3 separate regions of the Homo sapiens genome follow, and regions 1 and 2 are each reported to be linked to region 3. Evidence: microRNA targets listed by miRTarBase, many of them from high-throughput screens and not tested one by one. Region 3 holds a microRNA gene; each other region holds the end of a gene's coding sequence.

What was found. Region 3 holds the annotated microRNA hsa-miR-6828-3p (AUCUGCUCUCUUGUUCCCAG, at 1,908-1,927, opposite strand). A microRNA usually pairs through its seed, bases 2 to 8, with sites in the 3' UTR of a target mRNA and lowers its output. Matches are read on the target gene's strand: a 7mer-m8 pairs with bases 2 to 8, a 7mer-A1 pairs with bases 2 to 7 and ends in A, and an 8mer does both.
Region 1: miRTarBase lists MYO1F as a target of hsa-miR-6828-3p. Seed matches in the 3' UTR shown: 7mer-A1 at 811-817.
Region 2: miRTarBase lists GPRIN2 as a target of hsa-miR-6828-3p. The part of its 3' UTR that is shown has no 7-base or 8-base seed match.

What each region holds. Positions count from the first base shown.
Region 1 is chr19:8,518,874-8,522,081 of GRCh38, reverse strand. It overlaps MYO1F (myosin IF), which reads left to right. Exons shown (of 28, transcript NM_012335.4): 28 at 478-1,304. The coding sequence ends at 554. Among named protein-coding and RNA genes, the nearest start is that of ZNF414, 6.3 kb to the right of the region's middle.
Region 2 is chr10:46,546,734-46,550,006 of GRCh38, forward strand. It overlaps GPRIN2 (G protein regulated inducer of neurite outgrowth 2), which reads right to left. Exons shown (of 3, transcript NM_001385282.1): 3 at 1-3,273. The coding sequence ends at 2,627. Among named protein-coding and RNA genes, the nearest start is that of GPRIN2, 8.3 kb to the right of the region's middle.
Region 3 is chr3:170,421,797-170,425,069 of GRCh38, reverse strand. It overlaps MIR6828 (microRNA 6828), which reads right to left and starts at 1,967; the gene lies at 1,908-1,967. It overlaps CLDN11 (claudin 11), which reads right to left. Exons shown (of 3, transcript NM_005602.6): 2 at 1,743-1,907.

The DNA.
Region 1 (3,208 bases), not on the chromosome of region 3:
CAACACACTCCAGCCTGGGCGATAGAGCGAGACTCCGTCTCAAAAAAAAAAAAAAAAAGAACCCTGACTGACATTGCCAGGCAGACCCCACCACTGCACACCCTCCCCACGGGAGAACAGAGATAACAGATGGGCGAGGTGGCTCATACCTGTAATCCCAGCACTTTCAGTGGCTGAGGCAGGAGGATCACTTGAGGTCAGGAGTTTGAGACAAGCCTGGGCAACCTAGCAAGACCCCATCTCTACAAAAGATTTACAAAAAAAAAACTTTTAAAGAGTAGAAATGGCCGGATGCAGTGGCTCACACCTGTAATTCCAGCACTTTGGGAGGCTGAGGCAGGAGGATGGCTTAAGCCTAGGAGTTTAAGACCAGCCTGGACAACATAGGGAGTCCCCATGAACAAGATGGACAGACCAGGCATGAGAGCTTTCTCCAGGGCCAGCTAGGGGCACCTCAAGCTTTCCTCTCTCCCACAGATCCCTCGGGCTGGTGGAAGGGCCGGCTTCACGGCCAGGAGGGCCTTTTCCCAGGAAACTACGTGGAGAAGATCTGAGCTGGGCCCTGGGATACTGCCTTCTCTTTCGCCCGCCTATCTGCCTGCCGGCCTGGTGGGGAGCCAGGCCCTGCCAATGAGAGCCTCGTTTACCTGGGCTGCAATAGCCTAAAAGTCCAGTCCTTTGGCCTCCAGTCCTGCCCAGGCCCTGGGTCACCAGGTCACTGCTGCAGCCCCCGCCCCTGGGCCCTGGTCTTCCTCCAACATCACACCTGCTGCCCATTCTCCATTTCTGTGTGTGTCAAAGGGGACTAACAGCAGAATCTACCTCCCAACTGCCATGTGATTAAGAAATGGGTCTTGAGTCCTGTGCTGTTGGCAAAGTGCCAGGCACAGTTGGGGAGGGGGGGGTCCTTAACAAGCGTGACTTTGCTCATTCTGTCATCACTAAGGCAATAAACCTTTGCCAGGTGAAAGCACGAGTTAACTTACTAAGTGCCCAACAAGGACGATGTTTTCACAGCCCTGTGAGGTAGGAGCTGTGAAGGACCCCATCTTACAGGTGGAACAATGGAGGTTCAGAGAGGTTCACTGACCCAAGACTGCACAGAGCCATGCCTTGCATTCATATGTGACCATAAAGCTTGAATTTGTCCCAGTTTGGGCTGGGCGCAGTGGCTCACGCCTGTAATCCCAGCACTTTGGGAGGCTGAGGCGGGCAGATCACGTGAGACCAGGAGTTCAAGACCAGCCTGGATAACACAGCAAAACCCTGTTTCTACTAAAAATTTAAAAAAGAAAAAAAAAAAAGCCGGGTGTGGTGGTGCCTGCCTGTAATCCCAGCTACTGGGAAGGCTGAAGCAGGAGAATCACTTGAACCCGGGAGGCAGAGGCTGCCGTGAGCCGAGATCATGCCACTGCACTCCAGCCTGGGCAACAGAGCAAGACCCTGTCTCAGAAAAAAAGAAAGGAAGGAAGGGAGGGAGGGAGGGAGGAGGTGGGCGCGGTGCCTCACACCTGTAATCCTAGCACTTTGGGAGGCCGAGGCGGGCAGATCACAAGGTCAGGAGATCGAGACCATCCTGGCTAACATGGGGAAACCTTGTCTCTACTAAAAATACAAAAAAGTAGCCGGGCGTGGTGGCGGGCGCCTGTAGTCCCAGCTGCTCGGGAGGCTGAGGCAGGAAAATGGCATGAACCTGGGAGAAGGAGCTTGCAGTGAGCCGAGATTGCGCCACTGCCCTCCAGCCTGGGCAACAGAGCGAGACTCCATCTCAAAAAAAAAAAAAAGAAAGAAAAGAAAATAAAGAATTTGTCTCAGTTTCCCTTCCAAAATCTGCATCCCAAATGGTCCAGCAGGTCCTGTTAGTCTTGAAGCTACAGCCGCCAAACCCATCTGGGACCTATGGAGAGAGGCAGGTCCCACATGCCACATGCTCCCACCCTCAATGCACTCTGGGTCACTCCTGCCCCCTGCACCCCAATCCCATTTCTGTGCCCTCTTAGTCTTCACCTAACTGGGACTAAGACTGGAGTCCTGCTATGGTCTGAGCCTAAAGATCCTGAATTTTGGGCTGGGCGCAGTGGCTCATGCCTGTAATCCCAGCACTTTGGGAGGCCAAGGCGGGCGGATCATCTGAGGTCAGGAGTTCCAGACCAGCCTCACCAACATGGTGAAACCCTGTCTCTACTAAAAATACAAAAATTAGCTGGGCATGGTGGCACGTGCCTGTAGTCCCTGATACTTGAGAGGCTGAGGCAGGAGGTGGAGGCTGCAGTGAGCCAAGACTGCACCATGGAATTCCAGTCTGAGCAATAGAGTGAGACTCTGTCTCAAAAAAAAAAAAAAATTCCTGAATTTTGGGAGTGGTGGTGCATGCCTGTAGTCCCAGCACTTTGTGAGGCCGAGGCTGGAGGATCACTTGATCCCGGGAGTTCAAGGCTGAAGTGAGCTATGATCGCGTCACTGCACTCCAGCCTGGGCAACTCAGCAAGACCCTGTCTCTAATACTAAAATAAACCAAATCCTGGCCAAGCATGGTGCCTCACAGCTGTAATCCCAGCACTTTGGGAGGCCAAGGCAGGAGGATCACTTAAGGTTTGACCACCCTAGGCAACCTACTAATACCCTGTCTCTACAAAAAAATTTTAAAATTGGCCGGGCACGGTGGGTCACACTTGTAATCCCAGCACTTTGGGAGGCCAAGGCGGGCAGATCATAAGGTCAGGAGATCGAGACCATCCTGGCTAACACAGTGAAACCCCATCTCTGCTAAAAATACAAAAAATTAGCCGGGCGTGATGGTGCGCGCCCGTGGTCCCAGCTACTCGGGAGGCTGAGGCAGCAGAATTGCTTGAACCTGGGAGGCGGAGGTTGCAGTGAGCCGAGATGGCGCCACTGCACCCCAGCCTGGGTGACAGAGTGAGACTCCATCTCAAAAAAAAAAAAAGCTAGTGTCATGCCTGTATTCCCAGATACTCAGGAGGCTGAGATGGGAGGATCACTTGAGCCCAGCAGGTCGAGGCTGCAGTGAGCTGATTACAACATTGTACTCCAGCCTGGGCAACAGAGCTAACCCTGTCTCTCTCTAAAAATAATAATAATAATAATAATAATAATAATTAATTGTAGCTTTCTAATATGGACACCCGCTCTGTGCTCAGCCCCTCAAAGAGAAGCCAGTCCAGTAGAGATGGGGCTGACTGGTGAGGTG
Region 2 (3,273 bases), not on the chromosome of region 3:
AATGAGGCTGCAGTCACTTCAGGTAGACCTGTCAGCAGCAGCTGTGCAACTGGGCTAGGGAGACAAGGATCGTGGTTTAGCCAGGAGAATCATCTGGGGCCCCAGCCAAGACACAGGTGTTGGATTTCAGCACCGCTCTGCAAATACTCATCTCAGTGACGATGAGGTGAGTGGGAGCTTGGCTGAGCCCAGCCCGGCCTGCCATCCTGGCAAGCCAGGGCAGCATGGAGGTAGCACAGAGTGGCACCCAGCCAGCGTGAATGCATAAGAATCTGCACGTGACACAGAAGAAAGTCTCTTCATGAAGTAGGTTTCACTGGTCCCAGCCAAACCCTGTGGCAGGTGGCCCTTTCTGCACCTGCTGAACATGCCATTCACCTTGACCCAGGTAGTGGCCTCACCCTCCTCTTGCTCAAACTGGAAACCTCAGCATCCTGAAATGCCTCCTCCCCAAATCCATTGCACACATGTGTGCCTGTGTATGCGTGTGTGTGCACGTGTATGAACCCAGCCCCCAGCTGCCCACTCCATTGCCCCTAAACAGGCCCCTCCTTGGTGTCACCTGGCACATCTCCACTGGAAGCCAAATGGATATTTCTAAACTGAAATCTGGTCCCACCTCAGAACCCCTTCCACAGTTCCCTTAAAGTTCCTTTCCTCATTTACATCAGGATCTTCACAATGGGGACCCCTGGTCACCTCCCAACCCAACAAACGCTCCAAATGAGCCGCCACTGCAGAAACTCATTATGGCCCAGGCAGGACAGGCACATCCAAGTATCTGACCAGGCTGTTCCATCTGCCAGGCAGGTCCTGCCCTCTCTCCACCCACCTGTCTAACCCCTGCATCCTCAAGACCCTACTTAGCTATGGCCCTGTGTGAAAGGTCCCTCCCCATGCACCCACAGCCATTTGTTCTCTCTCATGTGGCCCTAACAGGCTGGGGTTCCTGGAGACTCCATGGGGAGCCAGGCATGAAGATGGCATATACCCATGTGTCACTCCCCAGAACGTGAGCTGCCTGCCCTGGCACCATACACAAAGGGACTGACAGCCCCAGAATCCCAAGGGGTGCACCTATGCATATGGGAAAGGCATGTTTACGGGTGAGAATGGTCCATCGTTGGGCTTCAGGAGGCATCTGACCTGACGCACGCCTTTGTCACTTTGTCCTTGTGGCCTGTTGAAATGCCACTCCTGCTTTACAAATTCACCAACTGTTGCATGAGTCATTTCCACCTCAATGAGTACCAGGTCCTTGAGGATGGGGAAAAGTAAGCCACCACTGTGGGGGTCCTGGGCTCCTAGGTGCAGAAGAGGCTCCAGAAACAGGCCAGGTCGTGGGCCATGACCCCACACTAGCCCTCTGGTCCCTCACACGGGTGGATTGGGGGGCTGTGTCACGGGATCTTAGGATCTTCAAGACAAAGACCCAGGACAAGAACACAAGCCCACTCCCATTCTTCACAGGCCTCGAGAAATCTTTGGGCAATGAAGTCAGACTGTGCCAAAGCCCATGTTTCTGTCTCTCCAAGGCCCCTGGCCCCCACTGCCTAGCCTAGGTCAGGTCATGTGGGCAAGCGAGCCCCCACAGCCTCACAGCCCCTACCCCAGGGCCAGGGCAAACTCCTGCCCTGTCCCCCTCCATTCCTGCCCTCCCTCCTTCCACAAACTGCACCAGCTGGGGAGAAATCCTTCAGCCGACAGAATGAGGTGAAAATAGTGCAATTTTAGGCTTTGTAACTGAGATTAGGGCAGGTGGCCACCCATTCTCCCCTTCCTCAGGCCAGCCTCTGACACAATGACCCTGGAAGCCTGGCAGCCCTCCGTAATGGTCAGCATCCTCCCCTGCCATCCCCAACCCACACCATGAGCTCAGCCAGGGCAGGGGCAGCCTCTGTCTCATTCACCACAGAATCCACAGAACCCAGCACAGAGTATGAGCTCAGTAAATTCTCCTCATACATGACTGCACTGACTGGACCGGGCACATGCTACAGGGCAACACCCACGGCTCAGCTGGCCCTGGCTTTGGATCTCAGTCCCACCTCTTCAAGCTGTCCAGCGTGGGGCACATCGGCTACAGCCTTGCCAAATGAAGGCTTGCCAGGATGAAGAGGTGAAGACAGGACAAGCACAGTATGTGGCACACAGGAGGCCTCTGATAACATCAGTCCCCTTCCCTAAAGACCTGGGCAGTCCCTGTCACTGGGGCCTCACATTTCATGTCGAGAATTCACTATTTCTCAGCACTGATTTCAAATAAAGCCACCAAGAGTCTGACGAGGCAACATGGCAGAGTTCTGAGGGTGGAGTGAACAAAAGGTCATTTTTTACAGAAAACTCAGGATCTCCCCTCTGCACAGTGCTAAAGCCCTGTCTCAAAGTTCAGAGCCCGGAAGGTGCAGAGATGTGGCCCTTGGAAATCAAGCCCTTAAGAAAACAGCCCAGCTGTGTAGGGCCGGAAGCCCCAGGCTGCAGTCCTGTGGTCTGGAGGCAGCCAATATTCAGGTGAGAGATGTGCCCAGCTGCCGGTGGGTCCAGGGGGCACGGAGCCCCCACCGTCCCTGGCCCAGGTCTAGGACTAAGTCAGTGGGCCCAGGCCAGCTCCAAGGGCCACAGCTCCTCACTCGGGGGCCGCGCCGGAGCAGCCGCAGCAGCTGGGGCGCCGCAGGGACTGCATGACAGCCCGCAGTGGCCCCCTCCGGCCCTCCACAGACAGGCTGTCCTCGCTGGCGGGCGCCCGCTGCAGCTGCTCAAACTGCATCTCCAGGTGCTTCTGGATGGCCACACCGAGCACCTCCAGGTCCACCGCAGCTCCGTACACCTCCCATGTCATGCCCTCAGCATCCCATCGCACATCCCGCACAGGGGACGGCACCTCCTCCAGGCTGGACCCCAGAGTTACCTCTGGGAACACATGCAGGGCTGCAGGCGCTTCCAGGGACGGACTGGTGGCCACAGCCTTGCAGGCCGCCACTGGGGCCGCCTGCACACCAGCATCCTGGGCTGACAGCGGGGATGCCTCTGCAGGGGCCAAGTCATTGGCTGAGGTCATGGTCCACACATCTTTGGTCCTAGAGCCAGGCTCTGGGACTAACCCAGCGGGACCCCAAAGGTGGGCACAGCAATGGGAATGCCCAGGGAGCCCCCCAGACAACCTACAGTGGATCTTCACCCCATGCTGAGCCTGCAGCCCAGACTCGCTCACTGACGCCACTAGTTTGGGAAAGGCCAGGATCCCTGTGGCAGGTAGGGCATGGCAGCAGCCAC
Region 3 (3,273 bases):
ATGCTGATATGTGTTCCGTGTGACGCTGGCACACAAATTCTTTGTGGCTGGAACCAAAATTTCCACATTCAGATTTTTCTCTGGAAATTAGTGGCCTTTTCACTCCTGTTAACACACACACACGCGCGCACACACACACACACACACACACACCCTTGTGGCTTCACAAGAACCTGCAAACCTCCGTCCCTTTGCAATCCTGGAAAATGGTGCCCCACCTCTCATGTCCCCTCACCTTACTGGTGTCATTATGAGTGTGAGGCCTCCAGATGGGAGGTACCCACCAAGTGGCATCAACCCACACAGAACCCTGACCCCTTATCCTTACCCCTCAAATTCATCATCTGATATGCCAATCTGGGGGTATGAATTCCTTGTTTCAGAAGAAGGTGATTTTATATCTAACCCATTACCAGACTAATTTGTTGTCACTGATATGCGCACTTTGCAACAAGAGTTGTTCTTAAAATTCATATTGTCTATTAGGATTTAGAATGTGCTAATGAAACTAGCATCTGAGGGAAAAAAACGGAGAGAAATTAAATCACTGACGAGAAGAGAGCTAGAAGGACCCTCCATAGGTTGTTAAATGAAGCCCTTTATGTGCAGGTATAATCAGCAAAACCAAATGAGCACATGCCATTTCCTGTCCCTGGACTGTCCCTCCCCTCAATTCATGACCAGCCCACCTCCTCTTCAAGTCTCAGAGCTTACTGCTGGGTTCTTCCACTCTGGAAACTCATCCAGTCTGGGTTAGGTGCCTTCCTATGTGTATGCACAGACTATATACCTTTTCTACATGAGCACATACCATATTCTATTGAGGTTTCCAAGTACACTCAAAGCAAAGACGGCCTATTTTCCCCAGTGTCCCCAGTACCTACCATGGTGTCTGGCCCACATGCTCAAGGAAGGCTTACTGAGTTAAAGGACGGAGCCATCACCTGGTGGTCTAACCACCCTCAACTCCTGACTTTTCTCTTGCCCTCTTCTTTACTTTTTTCTTTCTTTCTTTTTTCTTTTTCTTTTTCTTTTTTTTTTTTTTTGGAGTTGCACTCTGTCACCCAGGATGGAACGCAGTAGCGTGATCTCAGCTCACCGCAACCTCTGCCTCCTGGGTTCAAATCATTCTCCTGCCTTAGCAACCCCCGCCCCGAGTAGCTGGGATTACAGGCATGCACCACCATACCTGGCTAATTTTTGTATTTTTAGTAGAGATGGGGTTTCACCATGTTGGCCAGGCTGGTCTTGAACTTCCAACCTCAGGTGATCCGCCCACCTCGGCCTCCTTCTTTATTAACTGAGCTGCTCAGTCTTGCCTGCACATAAGCATCACCTGGGAAGCTTTCAAAAAATATCTTTGCCTGGCCTGATGCCCAGAAAATTCTGATTCAATTGATCTGCTGTGGGACCTGGGCATAGGTGTTCAAAAAGGATTCCACTGTGAAGACTGAGAAGGCTTCCATCTTTCAGGTCTTTCCCTTAGGTATTTCCTACCTTCAAAATCCTCTTTCTCTTTTTAAACTTATCTTCATGGTCAGTGACTCCCAGAGACATTACTTAGCCCTCTGTGTAAACTGCCCATAAAATACAAAGGGATACAGATTGTGGGAGTCCATCCCCCACTGGCTTCACTTGGCTTCCTTTCACATTTCTCTTGAACTTGAGAAGGCAGCAACCACAAGATCTGAGATTCATCAGGCTCCCTCATAGGTAGGGTACCACTGAGAAAGCTGTCTTACCCAGCAGAATGAGCAAAACACCAGCCAGCTGGGCCCGCCTGTACTTAGCCACACCGGGCTCCTGGCCCATCCGGATGCAGGGAAGAACAGTCAGCAGCAGTAAAATGGCCGGCAGACCCAGGACCGAGGCAGCAATCATCAGGGCGCGGCAGGCCTGCACGTAGCCTGGGAACAAGAGAGCAGATGGGAAAGGTTAGACCACAGGGTTCTCTTGCTTCCTGAGCCCTGCCTTAGGGGAATTCAGCACCATCTCCCTTCCTCCTTCTTGGTGGATTCCAGGACTTAGAAGGTGCTAATGTTGTCCAAGGTCACTAAGCACTTTTTAACTTTTAAAACAACTCAGCAAGAAAAAAGGGGGCTGGAGAAACTAAATGGGGACCCCTGGTTTAGGCCACTTGGCCAAGCTTCCAGGATGGAGGGGCCAAGAGTCCATTTACATTATTACATCCCCCTGAGAAAGTTCAGATGAAAACTGAAATCTCCCAAGAATCATTCTGTGAGGGCCTCTATTGGTTCCAGTCTGCTATTGATAGCTCTACCTGTGTGACCTTGGGCAAGTTACTTAACCATGATGTCTTATTTTCCACATCTATAAAGTAACAACAGGCCAGGCATGGTGGCTCACACCTCTAATCCCAGCACTTTGGGAGGCCAAGGCAGGTGGATCTTCTGAGGTCAGGAGTTCAAGATCAGCCTGGCCAACAGGGCGAAACCCCATCTCTACTAAAAATACAAAAATTAGCCTGGTGTGGTGGTGTGAGCCTGTAGTCCCAGCTACTTGGGGAGGCTGAGGCAGCAGAATCGCTTGAACCTGAGAGGGGGAGGTTGCAGTGAGCTGAGATCGAGCCACTGCACTCCAGCCCAGGTGACAGAGCGAGACTCTTTCTCAAAATAAATAAATAAATAAACAAACAAAGTATTGATAATAATATAATAGTACCTACATCTCTGTAATAGAATTCTACTGAAGATTACATTAGTTAATTTATTTAGTGCTTAAAACAGTGCCTATACCAAATCCTCAAAAAAGGTTAGTTGTTATCATTGGTGTTCTTTGTCTGTCTCAGTGCAGCGCTTTCATCTTCAGGTGTCCTAGGTGATTTTCTCCTAACCATGTGCTTTCATTCACATTGGCTGTGGCCCTAACCCAGACTAAACTAAGACTCAGGCTTCCTCTCTTTGCTGTCTCCCCAGAGGCTGCTGTCCTCATGGATCCTGCCCCTAAATTGTTGGACCCCATCTCCTGCCTCACCCACAGTGCCCTGGGCATCCTTCCCCAACTGTCCATCATTGCTTAAAAGGCATCTCTCCAGCCCTCAGGGTTCCTGGAGGGCAGACACCTGCCTTGGTATTCACGGAGTTAACACAGTGCCCACAACAGATCATGGAAACAATTGCGAATCAAGGAATAAGAGAACTGAAAAATAGAAGAGTAGAGCAAAACTACATGAACTTTATCCTGTCAAGTAAAATGCCAAGTAAAAACTGTATTAAGAAACAGATTACAATATGTGTCACATTTATTTAGAAT